Homo sapiens: one gene and its partner. The protein of the gene in region 1 interacts with the protein of each later gene in a biochemical or structural test. Each region holds a gene or a part of one and is shown in the gene's direction. Other genes may lie near its edges.

Region 1 (7,502 bases):
ATACCCAGAGGTGCTGGTGGAGATGTTAGAAGACAACAAATACACAAAGAAACTGCTAGGTGTGTCTCAAAGAGTCTCAACATTTCTTCAAAGCACATATCCTTGGCTCCATTTTAAAGATAGGCAGGTTCAGGGGAAGTATAGGAATCCTGGATCTGAAAGGTGTTGGTTCTAGAGATCACTAAAGTTCAGCCTCTATTTTTTAAATGCTTATCAAACATTTGCAGAGATACTCTGTCACCCCATCTGGTGATTATTATTATTATTGTTATTATACTTGAGCATAGGCACTATGGTAAGAATTTTATGTTCAGTATCTTGTGTAATCTTTTTTTTTTTTTTTTTTTGAGATCTGTCGGAGCGCAGTGGCACCATCTCGCCTCACTGTAACCTCTGCCTTCCAGGTTCAAGCACTTCTTGTGCCTCAACCTCCCGAGCAGCTGGAATTACAGGCATGCACCACCATGCCTGGCTAATTTTTATAGTTTTAGTAGAGACAGGGTTTCACCATGTTGACTAGTTACTGACTAATTTGGAACCCCACTGATCCTACAAACTGCCGGAAGTTTGCCTCTGCCCTGGGTTTCAAATAGCGGCCTCCTACTTAACCTGAGAAGTGTAGAAGGTTGAAAACTTGGGCTACAGCAGCCCGAAGCCTGTCCATCCTCCCCCAGCCCCCGGCTGTTGTTGCTCAGGGCAAAGGCTCTCTATTCACACATTTTTTCACAGCAGAACAACCTCCCAAGCAACTTCCAAGCAATAAGAGTCTGGAGACAGGCATTCTCTAGAGATGGCTCTGGTCTTTGCTTGCTAGGTGCCATTGGGAAAATTGTCTCAGTATCCCATCAGTCAAATTGAACAAATAACATTGGTTCCCCAGAAATAATACTAGTTTTATTTCTACTTTGCTCAGAAATCACATCAAACAAGCATCCTCCCTGCAGGGGCAACCCTGCAAAAGCTGGCCAAGTTTTTATGTTGGTGGAGGTGGGTTCTGTGGACAGCTTGTTTCTTCACATTGCTAGTAGCTATGTGGTGCTCCTCAGGCATTCTTTAGCTGAGATTTTTCATGTGATTATTTTGGCTTCCAGGCTACTCTTTACTCCATCCCAAGCCACGGGCATCTCCCCCTCACAAATACACCCCATGGCCTGCCCCTATCCATCCTCCCATTGTTCCTTGAACCTTCAGGAAAGGCAGAAGATCACCCTCCACTCTCTACCCCTGTCTGCCAGCTCAAAGTATGTGACATCTCTGGCCCTCAGCCCTCGGTTCTCTTGGCCAGAAAGGCATAGTCTAGCCAATCGGCATGAAGTTGGGTGTGGAAAGTTCTAGCCACAGTACATAGGACATAATATACTGCCTGCCTGCCAGCCAGCCAGTCTTCTATGCCAGGGCTAGGAAAGCTGCCTTCCAAAATTTGGTCTGGGAAGACATTATCCTGGGAATGAGAAGCAAAGCCTCAGCTCTAGAAGCCCAAATAATAGCAGATGACCCAGGCTTTCACTGGTACGCGCTTCTCTCTTCCCCTTTATGTTCTTCTCTGTGCTCAGGGAGAAGTTGGCCACTAGATTGGGCACTTGATCCCTTATCTAGTTTTTCCTGGGAGAAATTCACTGGACTTCTCTGAGTTTTAGAGTTCAGTCTACACAATGAAGCAAGGAGAACCCACTTGATCTGTGGCCTTCAATAATCTGATACTATGGGATCATAGAGCAGAGAGTGGAGGTAATATTCAAGTGTTTTCGAGTTATTTGCAAGAAAGCTGCACAGTCAAACCAAGCCATGATCAAGGGGGCCCAGATTCTCTGAGGTACCATCAGAATTGCATGAAGCAAACTGTTTACGAGTTTTATACAATCCTGCATTGTTCCCACAGGCACCCAGTACAGGCAGCAGGCTGCACCAAGAAGGCTGGCAGTGCCTCTTGAGGAATCCCTTGGCAGTGCAGGAGCCTAGCTGGACTCAAGAATATTTTGCCAAGGGCACCCAGCAGAACCAATGGAAGCAGAATCACAGAAATAGGTGGGGGTATGTAGATAAAAATGGGCTCTGGAGGACCTGGGAAGATACCCTATGAGGTCTGTAGGGAGCCCTCAGGAAAGGTCTGCTGACGAGGTACTGAGGCAGAGTGTCGGGATGTACAGAGCAATGAGAACACACTAGATTCTAGGGAGTTGGGAACCTTAAGGCACTGGGATGAGTGAGACACGGTCACCTGGCTGGGTCCCTTTTCTGGCCCTGGGCATAAGAACAAGCATAAGAACAAGGCGAAGACAGGGAATGTGGAGAGAGAAAAAGGAAACAGAGACAGACACATAGAGAGAAACAGAGACAGAGACAGGTAACAGAGACAAAGAGATTGAGACTTGGGGAGAGGATAGAATGAATATTAAGGCAATGGAGATGGAAGAAAGGAGAAGAGAAATGTGTGTTAAGGGAATGTGGTTGATAAATTGGTATCTGTGGGTTTATTGGGAACACATATTTTCTTTCCAGTAGAGTTGCTGTCCCCAGAGCTGCTGCTGAGAACTCAGGGGAAGCTTTGTGAGAGGGCTCAGTCTGAGTGATGTCCCCTGTGTGGAGAGCTGTCTCATCTATTCGAGCTGTGAAGGATCATTTGCCTCATCCTCTAAATCTGAACTCCCAAAGTTTGGGCTCACTCCTGCCATCTGATGAGCTGAGGAGACACATTTGGCGATTTCTTGCTCTTGGTCCTCCCCCTTCTCCAGGGCCATTCCGACAGTGACCATCCAGAAGTTTATTGCTGGCTCAATCCTACAGTTGAGCTTCCAAAGCAGGCATAGTCTGTGGCTGGCGAGCAGGGCTGGGGAGGGCGAGGGGCTCTAGGACCCTTTTCCATCAGTCACATGGCCTTAGTCTCGTCTGCTCTGGAAAGCTACTATTATACCGTTTTGCAAGGGGCAGCATTTCCAGAGATCCTTTTTTCTTGGGGCTGATACAAGAGCAAAGGATCTAGAGTTCTAGTACTCTAAGCAAGCCTCAAACGGTGCAGGATTTGGCCCCAGTGGGCCCACAGGGGCATCTGCCAAAGACTCGTCCATTTCCTAACAGCAGAGCCCAAGCCAGTAACATGTCCAAAGTCACAGCCCAAAGAGAAAACTGTAAGACACAATCTTGCCTTTCTCCCACCCCAGGAAGGTACTAGTCTCTGCTCAGTATCTCCCTCCTCTTCTCTCCTCTCCCAAGGCAAAATCACAGGAAAAGTTCCAGGAGACCATACCTTCCTTCTCCGGAGTCTTCCAACAGGTGCCCCTCTTATTATATGCCAGCCAGTTGTTTTAAAGGCCATCCATGGGAGGACACCGGCCTCTAGGTCAAGGGAGCTGTGAAGGGAGACAGGACTGACAAGGAGCCCAGACAGACACTGTTTAAGATTCACCTGTTCTAGAAAACCTTCCCAGGCTGATCCCATCTAGCAGTGGGCATTTAAATACCTTCACAGTCTTTAGAAATAGCTTATTGCTAAGGCAGGTTTTATATAGTATTTCCCTGTTTTTGCTGCTTAGCCATTTTTGTCTTACCGCTTCTTTCTCTGTGGCAAGGACTATATTTCGTTTCTTCTCTCCACCCTCACTGCCACCTGCTGCTTCACTCTAACCCACTCCCTGCCTCTTGTCTGCCTGGCTTAAGCTCTCTGATGAAGATATTACACTCTCAGGATAGAATACTGACTACCTGATTCCCAGATCGTGTTCTTGACTTGTCTCGAAGTCGATTATCCTTCTTGGAAATCACCCACATCTTCAACGCTGGCCTTTTCTTTAACCTAGTCTGTGAACTTGCATAGGTCTTGCCCACTTCTGGGTCTTTATTATTGTAGCTATAAAATTATTACAATTCTAGCCTCCCCCAGCCTAATCACAATCTGTTCATCGAATTGACAGCCTGCATTTTGTCTTCATGCAGTTGAAACTGAGAAGGATTTGGAGGAAATTATCTTAAAAGACAATTTTTTCTTCTCTATTGTGTTCGTAGAGCTGGGGGTGGGGGTGGGGGAGGAACGCTTATTTTCCAAGGAATCGGGAGGGGAAAGGTGGAGAGGGCCAAGGGCAGCTAGGAGTGATGTGGGGAGCTGGAGCAGATTCGGAAGGACTTTGGGAGCTAATATCTAGGTTTTTGACTCTGAGCCCCTGTTGGGGCTCTCACTTCATGGCTTCTCACGCTTGTGCTGCATATCCCACACCAATTAGACCCAAGGATCAGTTGGAAGTTTCCAGGACATCTTCATTTTATTTCCACCCTCAATCCACATTTCCAGATGTCTCTGCAGCAAAGCGAAATTCCAGGCAAGCCTTAGGGAAAAAAGGAAAAACAAAGAAAATGAAACAATTGGCAGTGAAAGGCAGAAAGAGAAGATGGAGCCCTTAGAGAAGGGAGTATCCCTGAGTAGGTGGGGAAAAGGGGAGGAGAAGGGAGGAGGAGAGGAGGAGGAAAGCAGGCCTGTCCCTTTAAGGGGGTTGGCTGTCAATCAGAAAGCCCTTTTCATTGCAGGAGAAGAGGACAAAGATACTCAGAGAGAAAAAGTAAAAGACCGAAGAAGGAGGCTGGAGAGACCAGGATCCTTCCAGCTGAACAAAGTCAGCCACAAAGCAGACTAGCCAGCCGGCTACAATTGGAGTCAGAGTCCCAAAGACATGGGTAAGTTTCAAAAACTTTAGCATTGAAGATTCAAGAGGACACAGGAATTCACAAGAGAATTTCCAACTTTGGGGTTCGGGGGTTCCATGGTTTAAATGAGTCGTGTTTTGGCACTTGTTTTCTTTTTAAATTCCTTAACATTCAGTTAGATTAACTCCTTCTCCGCTGTACTAAGCATGATGCTTTATTACCAAAGAATTCCAGCAGCACGTGGAGAGTCCCACAGATCTCTGGAGAGAGTGCCCAGCTGGATGGATGTGGTCATGTGTCCTCCTACCCCCTCACTTCCCTCTATCTTCTCTTTTCCCTTGGTTCCAAGGCCCTGGCAACGGTTGGGTCAGCTTGCCCTCCTGGTTCTGCTGGAGGCCACTGAGCACTGTCTAGCCCTCAGATGTACAAAATAACTGCTTGCTTGATGCAAACTTTGAACCATGTTTGGCATTAATAGGAAGCTGGGGATCGGGCAAGCTGGACTCAGGCTTGGCTATGGCTGAGGAGGCCATTCTCAGGTTCAGGAAATGAAAGTAAAGTCCTCAATGGCTTGACCATGGGAAACAGATATGGGTAGGAGTGTGTGTGTGTATGTGCATATGTGCATGTGTGTGCACATATAGGGTTGATCATTTCTAGCAAATATCACAGACACAGCTTTCCTGAAGGCTCTTTGCTGTGACAAGGAGGATGCTGGGACATTAGGGCTCTTGCTAAGTTGGCTGAGTATTGAGGGCTTTTCTAGGTTCCGTGAACAAAGACAGAAGCTATGAAGTTCTGGTGGTAGTTTCTACTCAGAGTAATGTGTGCAGAGCACAAGGGTCTTTGTCCCTATTGGACTCCACAGAGTCCTGTAGACATTGCTAACATTTGGCAAAACAAAGATAGCAGCTTAAACACATCCTAAATGAAATGAGACTCAGTTGCCCCATGTATTCCCTATCAAATGTAGCATCCAGTAGACAACATCCACAGAGATCAATTTGCAATTATACTGAGCTGGTTCAGCCTTTAGGTTGTTTCATCATGAAACACAGAGAGAACACTTTGAAGCATGTGTTCAGGTAAAACAGGAGGGAGAGCACTGGACAGGGAGTCGGAAAAATCAGATTCAAATCCCAGATCTGCTACTTATGAACTATGTGACCTTGGACAGGTCACTGAATCACCACTTCCTCATCTGGAAAATGGGGACAGCAATAACTACTTTGTCTACTTTCAGGGTTGTGAGAATCAAGTAACAATAATGTCAAAGTCCTTTGAAAATGGGCAAGATCTATAACAACTGTAAATCATGATAATACCTACTATTAGACAATAATGTGTATACAGGCGAACTCTTCCTCTTTCCAGGGTGGTTGGGTTTTCTTTGCGTGCTTGGGTCAGAATCATTTGACCAATTATGTGTGACCAGATGAGAGGTGAATGTTGGAGGAACTCAATTCCTGCCCTGGGTAACATCAGGAATCCTATCTAATGTCAGCCGAGCTGACTGGATAGGTTGTGCATTAAAAACAGAGAGGGAGTAAAGAAGGATGTTGAATATTACTTCCTCAGGGGATGAAATCCCTGAGGAAAGGCAGGAACAAATAAAGTGACCACAGGGACAATTGCCTGTTATGGAGGCTGGGTGGTTTCCTCCAGAGGAAGAGTGCCACAGATAAGGGCACGATTGAGGATGCACATTGGGTCCCAGGTCCTAAGGGTGGACGATACTTGGGCCAGGTACATATGATGGAGCAGCCACTGAGTTTTCATTTATTCAATAACAGAGTATCTAAAGTACTTTGAATTATAGATCATCTCTAACAAGGTACTGGACTGCCACTACTTCTGATGTGGAGTGCACTGCTGTTCAACAATTGCAGTAAACACATTGTATCATGGAATCCGGGATTGGAAGGAACTTTAGAAGTTGTCTGAGCCAACCTTCAATGCGGGATTCATTTTTACAACAACCAATTAAATGTTCGTACAGCCTCTGCTTAATCACCTCCAGGAACAGGGAACTTACTACTTCAACCATATAGAATCCCTTAGGATTGGAAGCAAGGAGGAACACTGATTCAGTAGTGTCTGCACAAAAGATTTATGGGGAAAATGATAGCTCATTAATTTTTGCCTTGATTTGGAAGGGGAATGTTCCAAGTGAGTCTTTGGGATAATGATGGAACCAGAAAGGAGCAAAAGAGCAGTAGCTGATTATTCTCTGCTCTGAAACACAATGCCATTATTGAACAGCAAAACATTGTCTGCAAGCCTGTTGTCGTCTGAGAACAGTGGCTGTTACCCTGGTAACCAGACTGTGATGCCTCCATCCAAAAGTGGCTGTTTGCCAAGCAGTGTAGTTTTGGCTGGCTTGCAGTAAGTGGGTGTAGCCCAGGCAAAAAGTGTGGCGGCAGAGCGGGGGTCCAGTTTTATAAAATGCCCGAAGACTAACTGAGTCCCATCAAAATGGCAAGAATGCCCCAAGAATACCAGGAGCCAAAAATAAACCAGATCCCAGCCAGCATGTTCACCTAGTCTTCCTGGAGACACTGACTAAAATAATCAAGTGCAGCCTTCTCTACCTCACTTCTCCCTTTGGCCGTGCAGAGCCAGAGGAGTTCTTGGAAAGCCAGGCAGTTTGAAAGGTCTACCCTGCTTTAGGGGGCCTTGGGCTTGGCTCTGAGCTAGGAAAGCCAGAAGTTTACTTAACAGGCTGACAACTGGAACTGCTCTCTCAGAGCGATCTGAGTAATAACAACCTCAACCCTGGGAGGTGGGTGGGAGGGGAAATATAGTCTCCAAACCCATTAAGGTAGAACTCCAGCCAGTAACATCACTTTCCCCCATTGCTTTTGTCTATC
Region 2 (7,029 bases), on another chromosome or scaffold:
TGATCGCGAGTTCCAGGCAAGCGCTTCCCGACTGTATCTGCCACGGATTGCACCGTGCGCTCCGTGCGTTCTCCAGAGAGCTCACTTCTCTTGAGATTAGGCTCCCATGTAACGCTTAGCCTAAAAACACAGGCTTTGCAACCTATGGAGAGTGCTTGCCATGGGCTGGGAGCGGAGGGGGCAGCAGAGAGAGCACAGGGCATTTTTAGGGCATTTTTCGGGCAGCGAAACCGCTCTGTCGAGGCTGCCATGGTGACTGAAGACCACGCACTTGTCCAAACCCACAGCGTGCACAGCACCGAGAGAGCCCTAAGGCAGTGTTGCTAATAAGGGAAACTGTTCGGGGTATGTGGAAACTAATTTCTGCACAGTTTTTCTGTAAACCGAAAAGTGCCATGCAAAACGAAGACGATTAAAAACAAGAACAAAACCACAGGCTTCTAATTCCAAGATCTCAGTGCAGCAGACATTTTATGCTCGTATTCGATAAGTGCACTTAGGAGCTGCAGACCTGGGGACATCCCCTTGGAAGCTCTGAATGTCAGAGGGCCCGCTACTCCTAGCCCCGGAAAGGGCTCACGGTGAAGCAAAGTCCGCCGCCTCCCTCAGTGTCCCAAGATGGGCCCATTCCCCAGCTACGGAGCCTCTGGGAGGTGTTTTCCATCCTCTGAAACACTTCCTGAGTGCTCTGGGAGATCTGCATCATCTAGAATATTTTCAATCTCAGGTCTATACTTCTTCACCAACTAGGACAGAAGTGGGGAGGCTGGGCACCCGGGTGCTTCTGGCAGCTGATGGATGCTAGCCACCCTCAGCAGGCAGGAGCCCGTTAGGAAATGGACGGCGGCACAGGGCTCCCAGTGCAGCCCACGGTTCTCTGTGTCTTTCCAGGTGACGCCTCGCACACCACCCCCGTCGCAGGGAAAGGTAAGACCTTGGAATGTTTTGATTGATCATCACTTTTCTGATAGACCTTCTCTAAAATCCCATAATGTACCAAAGAGAGAGTTAGGCTCCGAGCTACCAGAATCCATCCCAAAACGTGTTGCCAGGCAGCTCCCAAGTAGAACAGGTCGGCAGATCCATGCACCCCTCCTGTCCCTCCCGCACCTGCACAGCCGCTGTGGCCCTGAGCCTGCGGCCCCCCTCGGAGCTCCGGGTGGAACCTGTTTTTACCACCTCAGCTCCACTGTGCTTTGACTGTGTTTCCTGTTGATTGAAAGGACTTTCCCTTCACTGACCACCATGTCATTATTTCTCTGTCTTCCTCATGCAGGGGAGAGGACTGTCCCTGAGCAGATTTAGCTGGGTAGGTGACGAACGCACTTCCATCGGCTTCCTCTTCCGTCCCAGTCCTCACAGCCCCGCAACTTTTGTGTTCTGCTCTGTTTCGGTTGCTTCCTGGCCTCCTTTTCTCTCCTCTCGAGACCTCTCTGCCCACAGCTGGGATCGGGCCGCCTTGTCTTCCACTGGGGAAATGAAACGTGGTCTTCCCTTCCGGAAGGTCTGGTCTCTTGCTTCTGTGCCGGGGACCCAGCCCTGCAAGGCCAGATCCTCTTCTCCCAGAGGGTTCCCAGGCGACGTGACTGGTCTCCCTCCCAGGGAGGGAGCAACACCACGTCCGAGAAAATGTTTAACTTCCTCCAACACAACCAGTGCGAGAAGCCCCAGGAACCCGCATGTGGAAGTGGGACTGGCTGGCCCGTCTCAGTGACCCCAGATGCTGACACTGGGAAAATGATTCTGCTGATGAACAGAAAAAGAGGCTAAATAGAGTTGCTCGATTTATAATAACCTCATTAATCCAAAGATTTTTGTTTTGTATGTGTTTAAATAATAATTAAAACATAGATATCAAGCCATCCAGAAAATCTTCCTTAGGAATTTTAGGCTGGTTAATACTGAAAGCAAACTTTCAAGGAAGGTTTAAAATGGCCAATTTGAACTTTCTAGTGAAAAAATTTGGTGTCTGAGCCAAATTAAAATGCCAATCATTATATTCTAACCAAACTTACAGACTTTAGTTACTAGCAAATACCAGATATGATTCTTACTGTATAAAAGTTATAATTTTAGAATAAAATGGAGGAATAACCACCAACGTATTGTAGATAGGTTGTGTCTGTCTCCGAAACTGCAATGCTCTCATACGCTAGAACAGAGCCTACCTACACTTTCTGCTCAATTAATAAGCATCATATAAATGAATGAATACATTTTAAAAGAAAAACAACAAGGAGAAAGAACAGGAAGAAAGAACAGGGAAAGAAAACAGAAGGTGGGGAAGAGGAAGGAAGAGAGGGAGGAAGGGGCAGGGTACTTGAGAGACCATGAGGATCCCAGATCAGTCCCACACATGATTACACTGAATTATGAACTAAGATATTTACCGAAACGTTTTCCATTAATGCATATTTGACTTGCTTTTTCTGACCTAATGAATTTGCAAAACGATGACAATCATGTAGCAAATGTACATGGACTAGTACTCACAATTAATTTTTTATTTTCTATGCCAGCAGGAGACAAAGATGATAGAAGAATGAAATTCATTTTTGACCCAGAAATCTTATTTTAGCTACTGCTTTATCTGCTCTTAATTTTCTAGGAGTGGACTTTGGGGCCGTCGTGCCGGATCCTCCCTGAATGTGGAGCGATGGGGGGTTGCACACAGGCCGTTCTGCCCCAGCAGCTAACAAGAAAGACCCTTGCATTCCTCCCTGCATCTCTCCCTTTTGGGTCCTACTAATGTCTGTTGAATTTCTCTTTTTTCCAAAGCAAAATCCTTCTCTGCATTTTGTCTGCTTGTCTGTTTCCCAGAGCCGCAGGACTCTCTCCTTGTCTGGAGTTCCAGAGAGCCCCCACTTTCTCTTTCTAAGCTGTGTTGTGTGTTTCCTGGTACATTCTAGGTTCCCCAAAGATAAACATGACTAAGGATTGGAAAGGAGGAAAGGCCGCGCAGATTGTTAATCTGAAAGTCAATCCCCGGATTTAGCTCTCAAAAATGCTTTATTTTTGGAGAAAAGCAATAGAGTAAGACAGAAGGACTTAACGCTTGCAGGGAAGTGGCTTTCTGCCATGTAGAGCCAGGCTGGCAACCTGCCCTCTGCCATCAGGGAGTGAGCATGAACCTGGAAACCTCTAGGACGCAAGAGCGAGGCTGGCTGTCCCCTCGTGTGCAGTGCTTAGACCTTCTTGCCACACATCCCGTCCCTCACCTCACTGGATAGCCCCCGAATCAACTGTTCACACGAAAGCAGCTGCCTGGTTCTGAGTGGCCATGCTCACTCCCAAGCACAGGCTGAATGAAAAGAAAACTGTGCAAGTAGCTTGTATGGTGGGAAGCCCCCAGCAGAGGCTGAGGGTGCAGCCAGGTGCTCTGGAAGCCTTGAGGCCTCTGGTGTCATCTTCCTCACCTCTAAATAAGAGATGGGCTAGGTTGGTCAAGGTCCTCCCTGTCCTAAAACACTTTAATGAAATGGAAGAAAGGCTGCAGGCTGATAGAGGAGGGACAGTCTGGTTTGGTTCCCTCAAGTCTTCAGGAGAGGGCTCAAGGACAGTCTCCCATTTCTTGTTGGCAAAATGTAAAGTGCAGTCTGGACCCTGTCCATTGAGTAGAGACTCAGGAGGCCAACCAAGATCCCTGAAAAGCTAACAGCGTGGTCAGCCTTCCCACAGACAGTGCACCCACCGTGGGAGGACACTTCGCCCCCCATTGTTAACGTCCACCGCGCCCAGACTCCCACAGCGAGCTCCTTCCCTTCCTCCCCATGTTTGCAGTGGAGTTCCCACTCGAGAAGACAGCACAGTAGCAAGTAGAGGCTGGTCCTGGGACACTCGCACCCATGTGTGTCAGGAAGCCCCTGCGGTCACACGGCCCATGAGGAAGCCAGAGGGGCTGCTGGGGCTGATGAGGCCAGGGCAGGGCGGCCTGCTCTTCCATAAATGACAGCTGGCACCAAAGCCCAGAGCTGGCAGCCTCCACCTGAGGAGTGGCATCTCCATGAACGGCTTGTGTTCTCGCACAGCCCCATTGCGTAGATGAGGAAACTGAAGCTCAGAGAGGTTCCTGCCCTTGCCCAAGGCCACACAGCCGGATGAGCTAGAAAGGTGCTAGGGGACTGGGAGGTGGGGGAGCTGAGACGCTGTCCCGCTGCTGCCAGGATGCGGCCGCCCCCCGTGCCAGCCAGGCCTGCCTCCTCCCTCTGTCCGGCTCAGCAGCCCCGGCCTCCTGTTGCTCCCAGTCCGAGCTATGGCCAAGGGAGACTGATTCCTGCTCACCCTGGGAGAGAGCTCAGGATTTTGTCTCAAAACCTTATAAAAGATACGAGGCTCGACATTTTACTAAGGCCGAGGACTCTTGATCTCCCAGACAGATCCTAGAACCACAGGGCACATGTGACCAGAATCCAATCTGTGCAAATCAATCAGCAAAAGGAGCCCCCAGCAAAGGCGCAGGCCGGGGCCTCCGGGGACCGGCACCTACACAGCGCACAGCCCCCCAGGGTCCGAGTCCTCCAAACCCGTGTAGGCAGGAGCCTCCTTACCTTGATTTGCTTGATGTTTGCTAATCTTCTCTTGAACACCCCACAGCGTGAAGGTAAGCAACTGTTCCCTAAACGACTTAGATCCTTAAAATATGTGTGGTTGGGCCGCATATCTCATGAGAGAGCCTCCGCCCAAACCAGAGCCCTCCTCTCTCTGCGGCCAACACCCTGGTAGACCTGGGGGAGCAGCCTCTCCCGCCCCCACCCCCTCAGCGTGGTGCTGGCCCGTGGCTCCTGAACCACTCACCAGTCCAGTCCGGGGCCTGGGCCCTTCCCCGGGGCCCTGGTGGCAGCTCCCAGTGGCTCAAGCAGCGTGCCCAGCACCGCGGGTGGAGGTTGAGCTCCGTGGTCTTCTCTTGCAGGGGGCCGAAGGCCAGAGACCAGGATTTGGCTACGGAGGCAGAGCGTCCGACTATAAATCGGCTCACAAGGGATTCAAGGGAGTCGATGCCCAGGGCACGCTTTCCAAAATTTTTAAGCTGGTAAGGTACCCTCTGCTCAGCTCCACTGAGCGGGGACTAAGGGCTCCCAGAATCCCCAACTAAGCTGAGTACAAGGGTGGCTGCCGCCTCTGGCTCAGCCGCACTGTACCCTGGACGTGCTCTGTCCCAGCAGGCGTGCAGGGGCTCAGGTGGCATTGCCCACCCGCATTTACGCGTGGATTTCCTCCGAGATGCATGTGAAGCCGGAGGTGCTTGAGGAAGGGCTGCGCCTGGGCTGGTTCAGGGGCCCTGGAGCAGGCGACTGACCTTGACTCTGGGGCAGGGCCCAGCTGGAGTCCAACTTGCTCATGCCCAGGGGTTGGGGCCCTCAGGGAGCTAAAGCAGGAGTCAAGCAGACGTGGGTGTCGGGGGGAGATCCCTGGAGCCACGGGAGGGAATGCCCAGGAGACCTCCAGGGAGTGGGGAGTGTCCCGTCGGCTCATGAGGACCTGGAACCAGACCCAGGACGAATGCCAGGCCCGCTGTTTATAAGCTCTGTCTCTGAGACTTGGTTTTCTCATCTGTAAAATGGAGGTAACCCGCCCACTCAGCTCACAAAATCGCTGTGAAAGTAAAAGGTAGTGACAAACACAAAACGCGGCTGGCAGGTGCGCGGCTCGGATTCCTTAGATAAGCAGTCACCTTTATTATTGTTAAACGTCACCCAGAAAACCCTTAACTCTTAGACAGCGGCTCTCATTAAGCAAAAGGGGAGGCACATGAAGCTCCAGGCAGGGCCGGGAGGGAACCGTGAAGCCAAAGGCTCTGGGAGCCCCCAGGCACCTGCGTTTGCATTTTCATCCTGGAGGAGACCAGGCTTCTGGGGCTGCTCCCCGGGGTGCAGAGAGGAGGGGTCTTTCTTGGTGTGTAACATACTCATTGATTCAGTCACCTGACCTTTGACTCCATGTATTTTGTTGAGTCTGGATGTGTGGTGTGCTCTGCCCAGCAGCGGGGATCCACATGAGCACAGACATGGTCCCCCCGCGTCCTTGGTGAGTGCAGAACCTCTGCCGTGAGCCTCGATTCTGGGAGGTTCTGGGAGGTTCTGTGGACAACAGGCAATTCAGGGCACAGCCCCTGCTCTTAAGGATAGCCGGTCTTAGGAGAAGCTTTTAATATGTGAAGTGAGCAGGGAGTAACTGAGCTGCTAAGTAAGCAGCTTTATGTCAGATGAAGTGGTAGGCAGGATCCACTCCTCAACGTAAATTCTGAGTTAAGAAAAAAATTCTCCAAATATTCAAGTCTCAGGGCCATCATGCTGTACATTGCCGCAGTTCTGGGATGTGGCCACAAGAGGGCGGAGATGAGGCTCCCCGGGGAGCAGTGTCTGAACCCAGCACTGCAGTCAGGACGGCCCCGCCCCACCTGGCCAGCACGTCACCTGCCTCTGAATCGCCTGGGATGCACGCCCAGACCCCTATCTGCGCTCCGCCACAGCCTCACTGAGTCAGAATGTCCAAGGGCGAACTAGGTGTTGCTAGTTGTGATGATTTTGCAGACACCGTGCTCACCTGGGAAACACGGATTCATCCCATCTGGAAAACTAATTACTCCACTACCAGCTTAAGGACTGTTAGACACACCGGGAGAGCTGAGTGCTGGCTCAGAGTTGATGGGAGGGCCCAGATGAGTGAGGGGCCCCATTTAGCAAATATTGTCCTTGCAATATATGCAAGGCTTACAACCAGTCACTCAAAGATGCTTGCAAGGCCAGAGCTTACCAAGACCACCCTGAGGAACAGAAAGCTGCATTTAGATCTGCACATTTACTGTGTGCAAATATAACCAGTGTACTATACACATGTGTTTCCTGAAATAAGTTCAGTATTTTCCCTGAACTTTTTTGTAAGAAGCTTTTAAAAATTATTTAATTTCTGTAGAGTTCAAGGGAAGCTTCTATGTATCAAAGCAAATTTCAAATCATATGGTTGTAATTAAATTTTACTGCATAAAAAGTTCATAACTGGCCTACTATGGCCATATGGCTGAATTAGTTG

Evidence for each region.
Region 2: the proteins of PLP1 (region 1) and MBP form a complex in vitro, tested with the Homo sapiens proteins (one study listed by BioGRID).

What each region holds. Positions count from the first base shown.
Region 1 is NC_000023.11:103,772,338-103,779,839, forward strand, and holds the start of PLP1 (myelin proteolipid protein), read left to right. Parts: upstream 1-4,502; 5' UTR 4,503-4,658; coding exon 4,659-4,662; intron 4,663-7,502.
Region 2 is NC_000018.10:76,982,775-76,989,803, reverse strand, and holds part of MBP (Golli-MBP), read left to right. Parts: intron 1-891; coding exon 892-927; intron 928-1,276; coding exon 1,277-1,309; coding exon of another isoform or gene 1,310-1,714; exon of another isoform or gene 1,715-2,101; intron 2,102-4,593; coding exon of another isoform or gene 4,594-4,600; intron 4,601-4,909; coding exon 4,910-5,029; intron 5,030-5,651; exon of another isoform or gene 5,652-6,077; intron 6,078-7,029. UniProt on the Homo sapiens protein: The classic group of MBP isoforms (isoform 4-isoform 14) are with PLP the most abundant protein components of the myelin membrane in the CNS. They have a role in both its formation and stabilization.